2 separate regions of the Homo sapiens genome follow, and region 1 is linked to region 2. The links come from fine-mapping of genetic effects on gene expression. Tissue or cell type: lung. Region 2 holds a variant in brackets; the other region holds the start of a gene. All regions are shown on one strand. Distances are between the middles of the regions.

Region 1 (5,387 bases), 21 kb after region 2:
TAAATGTTTCAGAATGTACCTTAAGAGCCAATTTCCTTCCTTCCTTCCTTCCTTCCTTCCTTCCTTCCTTCCTTCCCTCCCTCCCTCCCTCCCTCCCTTCCTCCCTTCCTTCCTCCCTTCTTTTTTGACAAAGTCTCACTATGTTTCCTAAGCTGGAGTGCAGTGCTGCGATCTCGGCTCACTGCAACCTCCATTTCCTGGGTTCAAGCGATTCTCCCACCTCGGCCTCCCGGGTAGCTGGGACCACAGGCACATGCCACCATGCCTGGCTAATTTTTGCATTTTTAGTAGAGACGGGGCTTCACTATATTGGCCAGGATGGCCTTGAACTCCTGACTTCGTGTTCCCCCCACCTCACCTACCAAAGTGCTGGGGTTATAGCATGAACCACTGCACCCAGCCAGAATTTCTTTATAAGATGTTTATAACCACAATTACATAGAACTCTTCTCCAAAGCAACAATAACTAGTTAATATTTTCAAAATTTGGGTTCATATATCTCTGATACTCCTATAATATTTTAGAGTCCATTGGAATCATGCTATGTAAAACGTTAACGAATCTGATACCTGACTCTTCATATCTCTTTCCATTTGATTTTTCTTAGTAACATTTGCCATTAATGTACTATATATTTTATTTCTTAGTGTGTTTAGTATCAGTTTGCCTGGCAGAACAATGCCTGGCATAATAAATAGCTATCAGCCAGGCGTGGTGGCTCATGCCTGTAATCACAGCATTTTGGGAGGCCAAGGCGGGTGGATCATGTGAGGTCAGGAGTTCAAGACCAGCCTGGCCAACATGGTGAAACCCAGTCTCTACTAAAAAATACAAAAATCAGCCGGGTGTGGTGGCAGGCACCTGTAATCCCAGCTACTCGGGAGGCTGAGACAGAAGAATTGCTTAAACTTGGGAGGCAGAGGTTGCAGTAAGCTGAGAGTGCACCACTGCACTCTAGCCTGGGTGACAGAGCGAGACTCTGTCTCAAAAAAAAAAAAAATCTATCAATATAATTGTTGAATAAATAAAAATCTTGGAGTTTGATAACAAATCCTTTATTTTGCTAATGCATTATGAAAAGTACAAGAATAAGACGAACTGGAGCCTTGTGATGTCTGGTAAACCTCGCCCTTCCCACACTTTTCTCTCTCTCTCTCTCTCTCTCTCTCTCTCTCTCTCTCTCTCTCTCTCCTCTTTCTCCACAATAGGCATGGCTAGGTGAGGGATGCACAAATGCATAAGAATGTAATGCTTTAAATTCCAATGAGAAAAAATAACCCCTGTAGACTGAAGAAGGCAGGAATAGAACACGCAGAATTCAAGGACCCACTGCAACCAAGGATTTCTCTGCTTATTTAGAGTTGCACTGAAAGCCTTTCCTAAAGGAAGTCTTAGTTTGAGGATAGAGAGTAAAGGGGACTACCGGACCTGGTGATCCCTGACCTCACTGGGGCTGACATTGCACGGAGGCAGAATTACAAGCTGTCATCAGCATGTGCTCTTGGAAATTATGGAAAGATTCACCAGTCCTATTTCAGGATACTCATTCAGAATGATAGTCTCAGCTTTTGAATTTCAGTCCTCCAGGGACAGACCTGGACTTCCAGAGGTAGGACTCTAGCCTCTTTTCAGGAATGTTACCTTCTAAAGAGACACTAAGAGATAGATTCCAGGGATGGTAGATTGATTTCCCTTGGGGATTCCCTTCCAGGGAGGTCTTGGGCTTGGAACATCAGCTCAAGATTTTAAGCAAGTCTCTCAGGAAATAGATCGCGGGGCTGGCAGTATGAGGTAATAGAGGCAGTTAGAAGGGAACTAGAGTAGGTAAATTCACACAGCCTTTGCAAAAGAGAGGTGGGTCCCATGGAGATAGAGCTTTCATCAGCTCGATTTACTGAGGTCCCTGCCATTCCTCACTCACAGTAAGGATTTTCCAGGCAGGAGGGCTGTGATCACAAGGGCAGAGCAGGGTTAAGTATGGGCTCACCGACCCCTCCTACTGACTGCTGGTAGTTTGGTAGAGCGAGGATAGATTATCCAATGGAGCACGAGGGAGGAGGGGCAGAGGGCAAGAGGGGATGGACAGAAGAGAAGACTGGCAGGATCCTTACTCCTACCTCTACCCACAGCCAGTGCCTTTGGCGCACTGAGGTGCACAGGGTCCCTTAGCCGGGCGCAGGGCGCGCAGCCCAGGCTGAGATCCGCGGCTTCCGTAGAAGTGAGCATGGCTGGGCAGCGAGTGCTTCTTCTAGTGGGCTTCCTTCTCCCTGGGGTCCTGCTCTCAGAGGCTGCCAAAATCCTGACAATATCTACAGTAGGTGAGTGCTTGGCCGGAGAATTCCCAGACAGGCGCGTCCCGGATACTCGCACTGCCAGGGCTCCAGAGAACAGCGCTTGATCAGAGTCATCCACGTGATTTTCCAGGCTGGGCTTGCGGACCCGGCTGGAGGAGGGAGAAGCCCATTCAGCTGTGGGGCAGAGAGGGGCCTCTATTGCTGAGGTGGGGAAGAAAGTTTTGGAGAAAAGAGATTCTCCTTTACTGTCTTCTTCCTGTTCAGGACGCGCCCCCATCCCGCAGGGCTGGGGCCAGAAATTTGAGACTCATCCCAGAGCTTGAGTTCCTGGGCTGCCTTCTCCAGGGCGCAGTGGGACTTTCAGAGGCTCACCTTAAGCTCCGGAGGGTGCGTGTGTGTGGGTGCACAGTAGCTTCCAGTAGAAACAGTGGTGAGCGTTTTCAGGCTCTTGGAGACCAGGGAAAGGCCCTCCTGAGGGCAGCACTGCAAATGTTGTGAAGCTGCATCCGGAGCCAGGGTGGCGCAGGCAGGTATTTCATGGCTGCAATGCCAGTGGAGTGTTTTCCACCAGGGGAAACCTGGAGAACTGCCGAGGGCTGAGGAGAAGATCCAGGTCATTCGCATCTTTTGGAGTATCTTTCCTTTTACCTGTGCCGCTGACCGTTATTTGAGGGATTCATGGGACTGTTAATTCTGCATTTTGGGTCTCAGTTTTACTTCTTTTACTTTTACCCCAAAGGGAATAGAAGATAAAAGAGAAACATATATGAACATAAAGGGATCATCTCAGGATCGAGCTTCCCCAAGACTTTATTTCAACCCATAGTGGGTTCTAATGGATTCCTTTTAGATCATGGAGAATTAGGGCTCGTAGGGCTGGGAAGAACCACAGATCATCTAATTTAGTGCCCATTTTCATTTCCTGAGAGGGCAATTGAAGGATGGGGAGTGAGATGCCTTCCTTAAGAGCACTTGTGGCCTCCCTGATGTCCCATGAGGAATTAACTCAGGGTTTTCTTACTGCAAGACCATGCTCACCACAACTTCCACTCTGAAGCCCTTTTCACTGGGGATTTTCAAAAATCACTGTTTAAGAAACAGTGCAAGTCCATTTGAAGACTTTTTCCCCCTCTTTCTGAGTGTTAGTAGCAGTGAAGCAACAGAGCTTCTTAACTTCTTGAAAGTACACAGCCCTCCTTCCTCAGGCTCCAAGAAGGAGTTGATGTCATTTCTGAGGTGCTAGAATGCTGATTTTTGCCCCAGAAAGCCACCTGACTCCCCAAGATCCACCGCTAACAGCTGTTTCTGTGGGGACCCCTTCTTCCCAGCTCCCTGTTCTTACGTGGATTAAAATGTGAGCAAGACCTGTTGCAGATTTGTACTTTATACGTCCCTTGTTGCTCCAGACTATTCAAGCCTGGGTATAAGTAAACTGAGTCATTCAGAGAGCTGAACACTACTTCTCTACTCCCTTCCACCCCCACCCCGCAGGCTTTTGGTATTTACTATTACATTACCTTCTCTTCTGATCTTCCTTTCTCTGCTGCTGAGAACCTTAGATTCAAGCAAAGGCTGTGTATTAGAACATGTACTGAGAAGACATTGATTTCGTGGAACTTGTACCTCTTTTGAGGATCAAGCTTCTCTTTCCTTAGGATGGATGTTTCTGGAATCAATGATTCCCTAGTCTCTCGTGCAACCAGGATCCAGCAGGCCCACCCCAAGCGCCCCACAGTTGTCCTCAAATGTCTTAATTAGAACTTGATCATTGTGTGGCCTAAATTAAGTACATCCTTTCAAAATACATTGGAATCTTAAGGATTTGGATTCTAAGTAGTGGCCCCTCATTCCTTCTGTTCCAGTGATGATTTCTTGGACCAATCTCTTAAGGTTTCTATCTCCTACAGCAGCAGAAATGTCCAAAGAGCAGGATCCCAGAAACAGCTCTCATTGTTTTTTAGGAACTATTCACACTCATATGTACAACACCATACCTGTATTTCCACCAGTGCCGTGATTTCTTTTGGACTCTGTGTCTCCATAAGGCCTTAGTTAAAATATACATGTACCTCAGGATGAGGAACTCCCATGGCTAAGCACATAGTAGCTCATTACACTGACATGGATACCGTGATTCACAAGAGGCAATCTCTCACGGACCAGAGCCACAGGTAAAAATTTGGGCGGCCATGCTCTGGGTGAGTGGGCTGGGTTTTACCCAGAGGGACATGAGGAGACTGGCAAAACTCATCTTCCTCCAATCACTATCCACTTCTGTTTCCTTACCTTTCCTCTCCTGGATTGATCACTACTGACTTCAGACACTGTATTCTCATCATTCCAGAACTGAAGTTGTGCATTGTTCCTAGGTGGAAGCCATTATCTACTGATGGACCGGGTTTCTCAGATTCTTCAAGATCACGGTCATAATGTCACCATGCTTAACCACAAAAGAGGTCCTTTTATGCCAGGTATCTTTTCTCACTTTTCTTGATTTCTCCTACTCCAAGCAAAGAGCAAAATGCTGTTTGCATAGAAAGGCTTAGCAAAATGTTTTTTAAAAATCTAATTCAATTGGAAGGATGAAAAGCTTGTGTGTGTGTGTATGTAAAGTGCCAAAAAACTTCTTAGTCTCTAATTACCGGGACCTGACGTTCCATACTCCCATATTTTTTTTTCCCCTTACTTGACTTCTACTCCATCCCAAGCAACCATCCACTCATTATTATGGATTATTTTAACAAATACTACTTTATAAGATGGCTTAAAAAATATATTAAACATGGTGGGGCAAGGTGGCTCACACCTGTAATCCCAGCACTTTAGGAGGCTGAGACAGGTGGATCACTTGAACCCAGGAGTTTGAGACCAGCCTGAGCAACATAGGGACACTCTGTCTCTACAAAAAATACAAAAATTAGCTTGACATGGTGGCACCCACTTGTAGTTTCAGCTACTTGGGAGGCTGAGGGTGGAGGATCGCTTGAGCCAGGAGGCAGAAGTTGCAGTGAGCTGGGAATGCACCACTGCACTAGAGCCTGGGCAACAGAGTGAGACTCCACCTCAAAGACTCTCTGTATATAGATAGAACA
Region 2 (5,387 bases):
TGGCTTGCCCTTGAATTCGTTCCTAGGCAAAGCCAAGAACTCTCCTAGGCTAAGCCCTAAGTTTGGGGCTTACCTGTCCTGCATCATAGGGTTTGGGTTATAGTGTCTGGTGGGGCATTATTAGGTTAATTTGTGGCTATTTGTGGCAATAGCAAGCAGTTTCTATGAGATGAGTACATAGCTCAAGGGGAGGATAGAACGTGATTACTGTCCCATTTTAATGTTTCTCTGGGCCTAATAATTTAAAAAGACTCATATTCCTCAGATAAGCACTCTTTTCTTTTCTCATAAGTATTGGCAAGAATGTGAAGCAACTGAACACTGGGTATAAATTGGTAAAACCACATTAAAACGATTTTGGTAATATCTACTAAAGTTGAAGTACTCATACTCAGGAATTTTACTGTATATGTACATATATATATATATATATCCACATGTGTATATGTGCACCCAGAGATATGTAAAATATTCTTCATAGTAGCATTATTCATAATAGCCCAATCACAAACAACTCATTCAACAGAATGAATTTTCCTAAAAGGATGGATAAATTCACTGAATAAATGGAAATGAATTTGTTACAGCTATACAACAACATGGATAAAACTCACCAACATAATATGGATCAAAAGAGGCAAAACAGGAAAAAATAATCGAATATAATTTTATCTACATACAATTCAAAAGGAGGCAAAATAAAATTGTAGAGTTAAAAGAGGAATGCCTAGTGGTAAAAACATTTAAAACATCAAGGAAGAGATTACCATACATGTCAGGCTATTGCTTACCTTTGAGGGGGACCAAGGGATTAGTGATTGCAATGATGCACAGAAGAGCCTTCTGGATTGCTGGCTACGTTCTATTTTTTGACTTCGGTGGTGGTTTTACAGGGGTTCGCTTTGTAGTGAATTATTAAGTAGTACCTTCTTTTGTATGTGCTTTGCTGTATGTACATTTTATTTCATCATAAAAAGGCAAAACTTACATATAGAGAGAATTAAATTACACAACTCACCATATAAATTGGGAGTGGAGGAAATAGTGTTATAGTGTTTTTAGGTTGCGGTAATATTCAGAAAGAGGGTAAAGATATTGCTTAACGTAGACTTTGAGAAGTTAAGGACACTTGTTAGAACCTCTGCAATCATTAAAAGAATAGAAATGGGATATAGCTTTAAATAGAAGAAAGATAGAATGGTTTAAAATATATATCCAATATAGCCAAAACAGGAAAACTACCAAAACCTAAACTTTATTGTTTAGAAATACATACATAGTTGGGCAAATTATAAAGAAAGTCAAGTGAGGGGACTGACTATAAAAGTCAGTGCTTCCGATTCAGAGATATCACTCAAGGGGCAATGTTTTGTTTCTTCACTTGAATATTTTTTACAAGTATGTTTCTATTCATCCTTATTCACTATACTGTATATTTATATTTTATGCACTTTTTTGGATATGGGTTACATTTCAAAATTTGAAAGGTTTGTTTGTTTGTTTGTTTGTTTTGAGACAGAGCCTTGTTCTGTTGCCCAGGCTGGAGTGCAGTGGTGTAATCTCGGCTCACTGCAATCTCCGTCTCCTGGGTTCAAGCGATTCTCCCACCTCAGCCTCCTGAGTAGTTGGGACTACATGTGTGCACCACCACATCCAGCTAATTTTTGTAATTTTAGTAGAGATGAGTTTCGCCCTGCTGCCCAGGCTGGTCTCAAACTCCTGAGCTCAAGTGATCCCCCCACCTCAGCTTCCCAAAGTGCTGGGATTACAGGCATGAGCCACCGTGACTGGCCGCAAAATTTAAAAGGGTTTTAAAAAGGAAAATAAATTATTATAAATCACATTAATGGTGGAAAAGAGTAAAGTCACATGACCATCACAAATGGATGCAGGAAACATTTAAATAAAATTCAATATTTATTTATGTGTTTTAAAAGTCCTAGGAAACAAGGAATAAAAGTAAACATTCATTTTCTAATAAATGTTTATCTATTTATCTATCTACCTATAAGTAAATATGTATTCGTAAACAAGAACACAAAACTACTGCAAGTATCCTTAATGCTACATTCTTTCCCTCTGAGATCCAGAACAAGCCAAGGATGCCTGCCTTCACTACTTCTGTTCAACATTGTGTGTCCCAAAATAATAAGACAAGAAAAGAGAACTGAAAGACCTAAGGATAAGGAAAAAAAGAAACAAGCTTTTATTTCTTATGACATGGTTATGTATGTGAACAATTTTAAAACTACTAATTATTAAAATTGATAAGAGAGTGGTATCTCTTAATATGGTGTTTGGGAACTTTGGTTAAGTCAGTAAACCTGAACCTCAAACTCATTATTTGTTTAAAAAAAGAGAAAGGGGTGTCTTATCATACAATACTCCTCACGGTTGCTGTGAGGATCATAATCAGATAATGCCCTTGCAAATGCCAACCATAATGCTGCCCCATAGCAGGGACTCATTTGTTAAGAAACACTGAACATCTGCATGGTTAGCTCACCCTCTTCCTTCAGGTCTTTATTGGGAAGTCATTTCTCAGAGGGGACTTTCCTGCTTTATTTTTTTCTCCTTATCACTGCCTAATATACTATATACTAATGCTCATCTCTCTACTCAAATACAAGCTCCACAGGGGATGGTTTTTGTTTGTCTTATTTGAAGAATCACCCCTGCCTGGCTCATAGTAGATGCTCAACAAATTTGTGTTGACTCAACAGATAAATGGGTGCATTTCTTTAACTGGCAGGATCAACCAGGTATAAATGAGTGAATTTAGTGAGTCACCATCCTGCCCTGATCTGGGCTACTGCATTATAATAGGTACAGGTGTATTCATTAGTATACTAGACAGGGAGACCCTCGTGCTGCTTTTTAAACCTCACCACTTCTCTGTCTCTTCCCTGTGAGTTGGGGTGGGGTGGGGAGTACAGAATTAGTTAGAATTCGTAAGAAGGGTGATGGGGCACCCAAAAATC[G/A]AGAGAAGGTTCAGAAAGGGAGACATGTGAACATCGAAGGTGGACTCTGTGTATCTCAAGTTGGTGTACTGTGTCAGTGCTGGTCAGGGCATCACTTGCCCACTTCAGCAAAGGGCCTGTCCCCTATGTGATTTCCATGGAGACCTGCCAGTCCTGGACTTCTAGGCAGGGCCAAGATGAGAGGTCAGCAGAGCAGAGCAGGAATCAAAAGGTAGAGAAAGGGCATAGAATGATTTATATTCCTCTGTGTATAGACCCAGTAATGGGATTGCTGGGTCGAATGGTAGTTCAGTTTTTAGCTCTTTGAGGGACCATCATATTGCTTTCCACAATGGTTGAACAAATTCACACGTCCACCAACAGTGTATAAGTGTTCCCTTTTCTCTGCAACCTCACCAGCATCGGTTATTTTTTTTTCTTTTTAATGGTAGCCATTCTGACTGGTGTGAAATTGTATCTCATTGTGGCTTTGATTTTCACTTCTCTATCAGTGATATTGAGCTTTCATTTCATATGCTTGTTGGCCGCATGTATGTCTTCTTTTGAAAAATATCTGTTTATGTCATTTGCCCACTTTTTAATGGGGTTGTTTTTCTCTTGTAAATGTGTTTACCTTCCTTATAGATGCTCGATATTAGACCTTTGTCAGATGCATAGTTTGCAAATATTTTCTCCCATTATGCAGTTTGTCTGTTTACTCTGTTGATAGTTTCTTTTGCTGTACAGTAGCTCTTTAGTTTAATTAGATCCCACTTGTCAATTTTTGCTTTTGTCATGATTGCTTTTGGTGTCTTTGTCATGAAGTCTTTGCCCATTCCCATATTCAGGAGGGTATTGCCTAGGTTGTCTTCCAGGGTTTTTATAGTTTGGGGTTTTATATTTAAACCTTTAATCCATGACTTGATATGATTTTGGTTCTTTTGCATTTGCTGAGGATTATTTTATATCCAATTGTGTGATTAATTTTAGAGTATGTGCCATGTGGCAATGAGAAGAATGTATATTCTGTTGCTTTTGGGTAGAGAGTTCTGTAAAGGTCTATCCGATCTATTTGGTGCAATGTTGAGTTTAGTTCCTGAATATCTTTGTTAATTTTCTGCCTCAGTGATCTGCCTAATACTGTCAGTGGAGTGTTAAAGTCTCCCACTATTATTGTGTGTGAGTCTATGTCTCTTTGTAGGTCTCTAAGAACTTGCTTTAAGAATCTAGGTGCTCCTGTGTTGTGTGCATATATCTTTAGGATAGTTAGGTCTTCTTGTTGAATTGAACTCTTGACCATTATTATAAAATGCTTTGTCTTTTTTTATCTTTGTTGGTTTGAAACCTGTTTTATCTGAAATTAGGAATGCAGCCTGCTTTTTTTTTTGTTTTCCATTTGCTTGTTAGATTTTCCTCCATCCCTTTATTTTGAGCCTATGGCTGTCATTTCATGTAAGATGGGTCTCTTGAAGACAGCATACCATTGGGTCTTGCTTTTTTTTTATTCCAGCTTGCCACTCTGTGCCTTTTAAGTGGGGGCATTTAGCCTGTTTACATTCAATTTTAGTATTGATATGTATGTATTTGATCTTATTGTGGTGTCAGCTGGCTATTATGTTGGCTTGGATGGTGTGGTTGTTTTATAGTGTCACTGGTCTGTGTACTTCATGTGTGTTTGTAGTGATTGGTAACAGTATTTTCTTATATTTAGTGCTTTTTGCAAGATCTCTTATAAGACTCCCTCAACATTTGCTTATCTGAAAAGGATCTAATTTCTCCTTCGTTTAGGAAGCTTAGTTTGGCTGGATATGAAATTCTTGGTCGAAGATTTTTTTTGTTTAAGAATGTTCACTATAGGCCCCCAATCTCTTCTGGCTTGTAGGTTTCAGCTGAGAGATTTGCTGTTAGCTTGATGGTGTTCCCCTTGTAGGTGACCTGCCCTTTCTCCCTAGCTGCCTTTAACATTCTTTCTTTCATTTTGACCTTGGAAAATCTGACCATTATATGTCTTGGGAATGATCTTCTTGTAGACCCTTTAGGAGTTCTCTGTACTTCCTGAATTTGGCTGTTGGCTTGTCTAGCAAGGGTGGGGAAGTTTTCATGGATGATATCCTGAAATATGTTTTCCAAGTTGTTTGCTTCCTGCCCTCCCTTCCCTGCCCATTCAGGGATGCCAGTGATTCATAGATTTGGCCTCTTTACATAATCCCACACTTTTTGGAGGTTTTGTCCATTCCTTTTTATTCTTTTTTCTTTATTTTTGTCTGGTTTTCTTATTTCAAAGAACCAGTCTTTAAGTTCTGAGATTCTTTCCTCAGCTTGGTTTATTCTGCTAATTCTTGTGATTGCATTGTGAAATTCTTGTATTGTGTTATTCAGCTCTGTCAGATCCATTAAGTTCTTTTTTATACCAGATATTTTGTCCTT

What was found.
Region 1: it holds the start of UGT3A2, and the variant in region 2 is fine-mapped to the expression of UGT3A2 in lung (TOPMed, PIP above 0.99). The same link has a PIP of 0.9 or more in blood mononuclear cells.

What each region holds. Positions count from the first base shown.
Region 1 is chr5:36,063,628-36,069,014 of GRCh38, reverse strand. UGT3A2 (UDP glycosyltransferase family 3 member A2) reads left to right here and starts at 2,133. Exons shown (of 7, transcript NM_174914.4): 1 at 2,133-2,319; 2 at 4,665-4,766. The coding sequence starts at 2,226.
Region 2 is chr5:36,084,519-36,089,905 of GRCh38, reverse strand. No RefSeq gene overlaps it. Among named protein-coding and RNA genes, the nearest start is that of UGT3A2, 20 kb to the right of the region's middle. The variant G/A (reference allele first, on the strand shown) is at 2,982.